Regions from separate parts of the Homo sapiens genome. Here region 2 is linked to region 1. Evidence: fine-mapped expression QTL. A gene starts in region 1. The other region holds a variant in brackets. All regions are shown on one strand. Distances are between the middles of the regions.

Evidence for each region. PIP is the estimated chance that this variant, and not a neighbour inherited with it, causes the effect.
Region 2: its variant is the best candidate, but not a certain one, in a credible set for the expression of TTLL3 in nucleus accumbens (GTEx, PIP 0.54).

Annotation. Positions count from the first base shown.
Region 1 is chr3:9,808,587-9,812,969 of GRCh38, reverse strand. TTLL3 (tubulin tyrosine ligase like 3) reads right to left here and starts at 2,708. Exons shown (of 14, transcript NM_001387446.1): 1 at 2,576-2,708; 2 at 2,261-2,349; 3 at 1-27. The coding sequence starts at 2,308. It overlaps ARPC4-TTLL3 (ARPC4-TTLL3 readthrough), which reads right to left. Exons shown (of 12, transcript NM_001198793.1): 5 at 1-27. RefSeq lists a silencer at 2,527-3,006 and an enhancer at 3,487-3,636.
Region 2 is chr3:9,786,311-9,790,693 of GRCh38, reverse strand. It overlaps TADA3 (transcriptional adaptor 3), which reads left to right. Exons shown (of 9, transcript NM_006354.5): 3 at 731-981; 4 at 1,080-1,185; 5 at 3,354-3,495; 6 at 3,585-3,688. It also overlaps a transcript of OGG1 not described here. Among named protein-coding and RNA genes, the nearest start is that of TADA3, 4.0 kb to the left of the region's middle. The variant T/C (reference allele first, on the strand shown) is at 2,387.

The DNA of each region.
Region 1 (4,383 bases):
GCCTTGGATTGTAAAGATCTTCTTCTGCTGCAATGTGAGAGAAGGATACTTCTTCAATAAGTATTGCATAAGTGCCAGACATAGGGGATATAAAGGTGAACCAGACAGTTATGGACTCTGCCATCAGGAAATTTTTATATTCCATTAGGAGAAATAAACAGACTATAAATAAGTAGAGAAATAAATATGCATGGTAATAATGATAATAGCAATGGCTAATATTTATTGAGGACCTACTACATGCTGAGCACTTACATGCATTACTAACAATACTGTGTGTTTTTATTTTGTTTTGTTTGAGACAGGGTCTCACTCTGTTGCCCAGGCTGAAGTGTAGTGGCACAATCTCGGCTCACTGCACCCTCTTCCTCCTGGGTTCAAGCGATTCTCTTGCCTCAGTCTCCTTGAGTACCTGGGATTACAGGTGTATGCCACCACGCCCAGATAATTTTTTTTTTTTGAGACGGAGTCTTGCTCTGTTGCCCAGGCTGGAGTGGCACAATCTTGGCTCACTGCAACCTCCACCTCCCGGGTTCGAGCGATTCTCCTGCCTCAGCCTCCCCAGTAGCTGGGAGTACAGGCGTGTGCCACTGCGCCCGGCTAATTTTTGTATTTTTAGTAGAGACAGGGTTTCACCATATTGGCCACGCTGGTCTTGAACTCCTGGCCTCAGGCCAAGGCCCGCCTTGGCCTCCCAAAGTGCTGAAATTACAGGCGTCAGCCACCTCATCTGGTGCCCAAATAATTTTTATATTTTTTGGTAGAGACTGGGCTTCACTGTGTTGGCCAGGCTGGTCTCCAACTCCTGGCCTCAAGTGATCCTCCTGACTTGGCCTCCCAAAATGCTGGGATTACAGGTGTAAGCCACCGCGTCTGGCCAATACTATGCATTTTTATTAGATACTGTTATCTCCATTTTACGGGCTATGAAACAGAGGCATAGAGAAATTAAGCAGGGTGCCTGAGGCCCCATAGTGGTTAAGCAAAAGAGCAGGGATTTACATCCTGGCAGTTTGGCTCCAGAAACTGCATACTTAATGGGATCCAGAGAAACTACTTAGAAATACATGGTCAGGGAAGGTTGAAAGGAAGCCATGAATGTACAGAGCTGGGAAATGGCGGTTCAGGCAGAGGGGAATGCATGTGCAAAGGCCTTGAGGCTGGAGAGAGGTCAGAAGGAACTGAAGGGAGACCAGAGTGAGTGGAACATGGAAAATGATGGGGAAAGCCCCAGAGGAGGTAGGCAGTGGCCAGACTGTGGAAGGCCCTGCAGGCCTTGGAACGGACTTGGATTTCATACTAAGAGTGTCATGAGCAAAAAAGGCTAACTGAGGGAATCTTTCTAAGCTTGGCTTGCTGCTGTATTACAAAAAGATGAGGGGACAGGATGGAGGTAGACCAGCTAGGAGGCTGTCATAGTTTGCCTAGGAGAGAAATCACAATTACTAAAATGAAGGTGGTTACAACACAGACGGGAGAAGGTGCTAGAGTTGAGAATCGTTTTGGAGGTGGAGATGACAAGTGGTTTTGCTGATGGAATTAGACCTGTGGGTGAAGAAACAGAAAGATGAGATTTCTGGCGTGAGGAACTGAGAGATGGGAAAGACTGGAGACTGGGGAGGACGACAGGTTTGGGCAGGAAGATCAAAGTCTGGTTTGGGACATGAATTTGAAATGCTTGTTAAGTTTTCTGGGTGTAGATGACAGGTAGGGGCTAGATCTACGGGATGTGGAGTTCGAGGCTGGGCTGGAAGGGGCACGGAGAGGGTGCAGCACACTGACTGGACTCAGCCAAGGACACAGCCAAAGGAGACAGACCTGGGGAAGGGGCCAGGGGGCCACTAATGGCTGAGGAACCTTTAAAGGCCGCTGAAAAGCAGCAGCCAAAGAGGGAGAAAGGAAAACTAGGAGCGTGCAGTCAGACAGCCAAGAGGAAGGGTGTGTGGGGCAGCGGTGTCGAAAGATACAGGGTGCCCAACCGAGATCAAGACCGAAAGGCACTGCTGGGTTTGGCTCCCTGGAACTCACCAGGCACCTTGATTAGAGTGGGACATCGCAGGGAACCAGAGTGGAGGGAGCCCAGAAGTTTGGTGCTGAAGGGGTAAACGGGGAGGTAGTTGAAGATGGGTGTGGTGGTTGAGGATTTTTGCTATTGTTTTTTCTTTTGCTTTTGTTTTTTAAGGATATAAGAAAACAGCGCAGGGAGACAGGCTGAGCCGCTCCCAGGGCCCTTTCTAAGCGCCCCTGCCCCTCCTCTGACCTTGACAGCTCTCTCCACGTAGATTTTGGCGTTTCTGAGCCGGTTCATGTGAGACGCCTTGGAGGATCCTCGCCAGAGGACCGGGAAACCTGCAGAAAGATGCGGAATAGGGGCGGGGTACACTGAGGCTGGGCCTAGGGTCTCGGCCTAGGATCTTTTCTGGCCGCCCATAGCCACGCCTCTTTTCTTCCTCCTGCCTTCATCCAGATGCCCACCCTCAGCCGCTCTTCTCCCGACCCCCAGTCCCTCCACCCCAGCGTCTTGTCGTCCTCGCAGCCGCTGTAGGCCAGAGCGAGCGGGCCGCACGGGCCTCACCATCCTGCGGAGAGGGGTCGAGGACCGGGGTGTGCGGGGGGCCGAGGGGGTGGGTATCCGAGGCGCCCTGGGCGTGGGTGCCTGGGACCAGCGTCTTGAAGGCGCCGCTGAGGCGGCGCGCAGGGGCGGGGCTGCCCGCCTGGCATCTGCCGCCTGCGTGACCCTCCTCGGACTGGGCGGAGGCAGGGCCGGCCCATGGCAGCCTCCTGGGTGGACGGAACTCGGAGCGGCGCGCCGAGGGGAAACTGGTGCGTGGCTCGAGCGGCTGCGGCTTCCGCAGCCAGTTGCACACCGCGCCGCCCTCCTGGCGGTACCAGGAGGCCGAGCCCCGGCGCCCGGGCCCCAGCTCCCTCGCGCTCAGGAGCAGTGGCGCGTCGGGGCCCTGCATGCGCCCCTCGCCGCGCTCGCCCTCCCAGGGCCCCTGATCCCGCGCCCCTCCGCGTCGCCGCCTCCTCTCCCGGGAAGTTCCTGCCTAGGCTCGAGCCTTGTCCTCCGTTCCAAGCCCCGCCCCGTTTGCTATTGCCTTGGAAACCATTCCCTGGGCACCATCAGACCGCTCGGGGCTGGTTGGGGGCTGCGATGGGCCCCGGGGCAGTCGAGCGAGGGCTTCCTTATGACCTGGGGCCTCACCCAGACCCTTGATGAGCAGGGCACTGAAGGCGGAAGAGAGCACTGAGCCCCAGTTAGTTAGTGTTGCGGTTCCTTATCCAGTACTTCCTGGTGCCACCGGCCCTAGGGTTTGAGTGATTCCACAGTATTTATAGGCGCTAACAAATGGCCCCTGACCTCATGGAGCTTACTAAAAGCCCAGTGTGAGGGGAATAAAAAGCAAGTAACAAAGGAAGAGAATAGTTTACAGGTATAATAAGGGCAATGAACAAGCAGAGGTGAAACCAGGAAGGGGGCGCATTTTAGATAAAGTGGCGCATTTAAGCTGAAGGTGTAAATGCCAGGAGTCAGGAGTCACCAGGGAAAGGGGAGGAACTGCACTTCAGGGAAGGGACAGTCCCAGCAACAGCCCTGAGAAGGGTAAGAACCTCTGTGCGAACTACAAGACAGCCAGGGTGGCTGGAGCCTGGTGAGGCCAGATCAGACCTGCTGGGCCTGGCAGATGGGCCTAGGGTAAGGTCCTTAGCGAGGGCAGCATATGGGGGTAACAAGAAGGTGCAGAGCACACCCTCCCCAGAAACTGGAAATGGAAAAACAATCATTTGAGTCAACTGCGAAAGAAATGTAATAGTTCACAACAGTTATGCCTGGCCCCCAGGCTAAGACTGTAAGCAACCTTTTTGGAAGCACTGGCAAAATATTATCCTCAAAAGTCACAGGGGAGGTAAGGCTCCAAGATGTTAAACAATTTGCCTCAAATCACAGAGCAGAGGCAGCACTGGAACCCAGGTCTGACTCCAAAGCCTGTCTCTTAAACACCTGTTATCACTCAGGTTGCCTGCCAGTCACAGAAGGACCACACAGGGACAGTTTGAGAGGCAAACTCTAGCAGTGCCCCCGCAGGCAGAGTCGAAGAGTGTCCTGGTAAGAGCCCAGCTTTGTCAGTCACTGGGTAGATGTGCTCTTAAGAGTGAAGGTGGATCCCCCACCTTCCTGTCCAGCTGACCCCAACTCCCCTTTAGCTGATGGCTGGACTTCCCGAAAAGCATGCCCCCCAGGAAAGGTGATTTAGGGAATTTGGACCCTGGGAGAGAGATACATGACAAATGAGGTTTGTGGCTGGCTCACCCAGGCAATGCTGTCCTGTGAGGGTTGTTGAGTGACCAGCTGCTATATCCTATTAGTCACCCAGTTTCACT
Region 2 (4,383 bases), 22 kb after region 1:
GCCCAATGCCAGACACTAAGTAAGTACTTCAGATGTTATTTATTTGCTACTCTGATGACTTTATTCACTGCATAAAGATGCCTTGAGCCTTGTGTGCCAGGCGCTATGCTGTATTCTGCAAAATAGAGATGGTTAAGGTGGGCTTTCTGGTCCTCAGTAGCTTATGGTCTAGTTGAAGAGACAAGGTGTGATGGTCATTCCAGTGTGACCAAACAACACGATTGGGTGCACGTTGGAGCTGTGAAGTGCCAGAGACTTGTGGAGGAAGGAGGTGCCAACTGGACCTAAAAGGATGAATGGAATTAACTTGTCCCTGGGAATCCATGGACCCTCCTTGAGGAAGGCTATGACTCAAGTTGTATTTTAGCATCTAAGAACCTGGGTAACTGATTGAGAGAAGGCATCTCAGTAGTGGTGACATCGAAGTGAAGGTTTGCTGAGAGGACTCTTCTGTTAAACAGTATGTGACTGGCATGGGTGATACAGAAGTGAATCAGTATAGATGAACAAGTGAATGAGATTATGAGAAGTATATGAATAAAGTTCTAGGAGGCCAGGCACAGAAAATGAGCTGAATTTTGAAGGATGAGTAAGAGTTTACTAGGTAAAAAGAGGATGGGGAAAGACCCAGGAGCCTCTGTAGATTCTAGATCCTAATTTATTCACTAGAGGAAAGAGATATTCTGTGTTTTCCCTTCTCCCCCTCAGTGACACTTTCTGTAAATTTCAGATCCTCACCGACTGGCAGGATAAGAAAGGTGACAGACGATTCCTGAAGCTGGGTCGAGACCATGAACTTGGAGCTCCCCCCAAACATGGGAAGCCCAAGAAGCAGAAACTGGAAGGGAAGGCAGGACATGGGCCGGGCCCTGGCCCAGGACGGCCCAAATCCAAAAACCTTCAGCCCAAGATCCAGGAATATGAATTCACTGATGACCCTATCGACGTGCCACGGATCCCCAAAAATGATGCCCCCAACAGGTTCTGGGCTAGAGAACATAGAAGGGGGCCTCAAGGTTCTGGTGGTGGAGGCACTGGTGGGGCAGGGGCGCCCACTCAGGATCTGCTTCTCCCTGCAGGTTCTGGGCTTCAGTGGAGCCCTACTGTGCTGACATCACCAGCGAGGAGGTCCGCACACTTGAGGAGTTACTGAAGCCCCCAGAAGATGAGGCTGAGCATTACAAGGTAGAAACTCTGGGCCTTGATAGACATGATGCGGAACAAGAGAGTTCAGAGGTGCCTGAGAAGTAAAGCTACCAAAGCCATGCATCATCTTCCTTCCCCAACCCTGCCCAGTCTGCTGTCTGCTCCATCAGTGCCTCCAGACACCTAGGCCCAAACTCAGCTTTCTCCGTGCACTGCCTCCCCTCTACCCCAGCCAAATGTCAACACGCCCTCAAGCATCTACTTAAGTGAAGTCTGCCCATGTTCCTTTATCCCCATCCCCTCTGCTTTGGTCCAAGCCTTCATCAACTTCTATCCAAACAGCCTCTTAACTCTCTTCCTGTTTCGAGGCCTCTGGAGGAACCTTTCTTCTTTCTTTAAGATATAAAACTTGGGCTGGGAGCAGTGGCTTATGCCTGCAATCCTAGCACTTTGGGAGGCCGGGGCGGGCAGATTGCTTGAGCTCAGGAATTTGAGACCAGCCTGGGCAACATGGTGAAACCCCATCTCTACCAAAATACAAAAAATTAGCCAGGCATGGCGGTGTGCGCCTGTAGTCCCAGCTACTCGGGAGGCTGAGTCAGGAGGATCTCTTGGACCCGGGAGGTGGAAGTTGCAGTGAGCCGAGATCACGCCACTGCACTCCAGCCTGGGCAACAGAGCAAGACTCCGTCTCCAAAAAAAAAAAAAAGATATAAAAGTCACCTCACGCCTGTAATCCCAACACTTTGGGAGGCTGTGGCAGGCAGATCATCTGAGGTCAGGAGTTCAAGACCAGCCTGACCAACATGGTGAAACGCCGTCTCTACTAAAAATACAAAAATTAGCCTGGCACGGTGGCATGCACCTGTAATCCTGGCTACTCGGGAGGCTGAGCCAGGAAAATCACCTGAACTGGGGAGGCATCGGTTGCAATGAGCCAAGATCGTGCCACTGTATTCCAGCCTGGGTGACAGAAGGAGATTCCATCCATTAAAAAAAAAAAAGCCGGGTGCGGTGGCTCAAGCCTGTAATCCCAGCCCTTTGGGAGGCCGAGGCGGGCAGATCACAAGGTCAGGAGATTGAGACCATCCTGGCTAACACGGTGAAACCCCGTCTCTACTAAAAATAGAAAAAATTAGCCGGGCGTGGTGGCGGGCGCCTGTAGTCCCAGCTGCTCGGGAGGCTAAGGCAGGAGAATGGCGTGAACCCGGGAGGCGGAGCTTGCAGTGAGCTGAGATTG[T/C]GCCACTGCACTCCAGCCTGGGTGACAGAGCAAGACTCTGTCTCAAAAAAAAAAGAAGATATAAAACTATGTTTTAATGATGAAAATAAATAAAACATGCTCCATTAAAGAAAATTTAGAAAATACAGAAAAATGTTGAGGGAGAATCCTCCCATAGGTGAGCTGTCATGATCAGATGTGCTCATGACATGGCGCTGCATCCAGGCCTTTCTTCCTCCCGTTATCTACAGGATCAAGTCCACGCATCCCAGTCCTTGCTGGCACAGCTCCAGTGCCCCTCTCCATTTTCCTCGGCCATATCCCTCTTCATTGCCGTGTTGACCAGTCCCACCAAGTATCTCGCCCTCATTCCAGGACACCACAGCCTCCTCGCTGGTCTCTGGGCCTCTGGCAAGCTCTTCTCTCCCTCTTGTCTCCTTGACAGACTTGACTCACCCTTCAAGGCCCTGATCTCATGTTACCTCCACCAAAGCACTCTTTCAGATTCCCCAGCAGAAAGTTAGTCAGTCTCTCCTTTGTGCTGCCACAACACTTTGATCTCTCTCTTTCACTTCACTTATCTGATTTCTTAAAAATTTATCTGAAAAAGAGTTCATACAGACAGCAGTAAATTCAAGCAATACAAAAGGTAATTCCCTGTCACCCGTGACCTGAAGGCTCCTAATTCTCTCGAGAGGCAATTGCTGTGACCTGAGACAATCTGTGTACGTATTCTGCACCTTCTATCTTGGGAATTATTTCAGATTGGCTTCTGTGTGTGTGTCTTAGTTCTTTTTGGACCTGTCTCCCTTACTAGAGTGTGAAGTACAGGTTTTATCTTCGTTGTACTTTCTTACCTACACCTGACACTGGGCTTGGCCTTGGACTAGGGACTTGAGAGAGATATAAGATAGGTAAGTGAATGAATGAATGAAGCATGGCTGGCCAGTGCTTACCCACTCAGGGTTGGGTGCCATCTTTTCCACAGATCCCACCCCTGGGGAAGCACTACTCCCAGCGCTGGGCCCAGGAGGACCTGCTGGAGGAGCAGAAGGATGGGGCCCGGGCAGCGGCTGTGGCTGACAAGAAGAAAGGCCTCATGGGGCCACTGACCGAACTGGACACTAAAGGTAGGCCTCTCACCTCCCTGCCAACCCCAGGTCAGGACTTGAATTCCAGAACTTCAGCCCACCTCCCCTCCTTTCCTGTGCCCGCTTAGATGTGGATGCCCTGCTGAAGAAGTCTGAGGCCCAGCATGAACAGCCGGAAGATGGATGCCCCTTTGGTGCCCTGACGCAGCGCCTCCTGCAGGCCCTGGTGGAGGTGAGCAGCCTAACCCAAAAGAGGAACCATATTTACTTTGTGTTTTAATGTGTTATGCTTATTTTTTATCGGAATTTATCATACATTTATTAGGTTGGTGCAAAAATAGGTTGGTGCAAAAGTAAAAACCTGGACTAATATATAGCAAAAGATTGGGAATAATATATAACTTGTGCACCTAATAGAAAAGTGCACAGATCATAAATGTACAGTTTTCACAAATGAGCTTGTATTACCAGCCTGGAGATTACAAAATGAAACATTACTATATCCTAGAAGCCCCTCTCATGCCCCTGTTTTTCTCCAACTTTCCCCAAAGGTAGCCTTACTCCACAATTACTTTTGCTAAGCATCTGTTGGAGGGGCTTTATACACATCCTCCCACTGGAGGCCAGGACAGTGGTTAACGCTGTGTTACAGATAAGAAGATTGAGGCTCAGAAAAGGGAACTGTTCACTTGAGGTCTCACACACCAGGATTCAAACCCTAGCTTCAGGGGCCCTGTCTTTATACCTGCTGGTTGACCTTAGACACACCCTCACACTCTTTCACCTCATTGAGACTCAGTTTTCTATTCTGGCTCAAACACAAGAGTTTATCTCATGGAACAGTCTGGGTACATGTTGCAGGTTATCTAAGGTAGGGGAAGGGGCAGGTCTCTATCTCATATCATCAGACAGGGACCCCAGCTGACG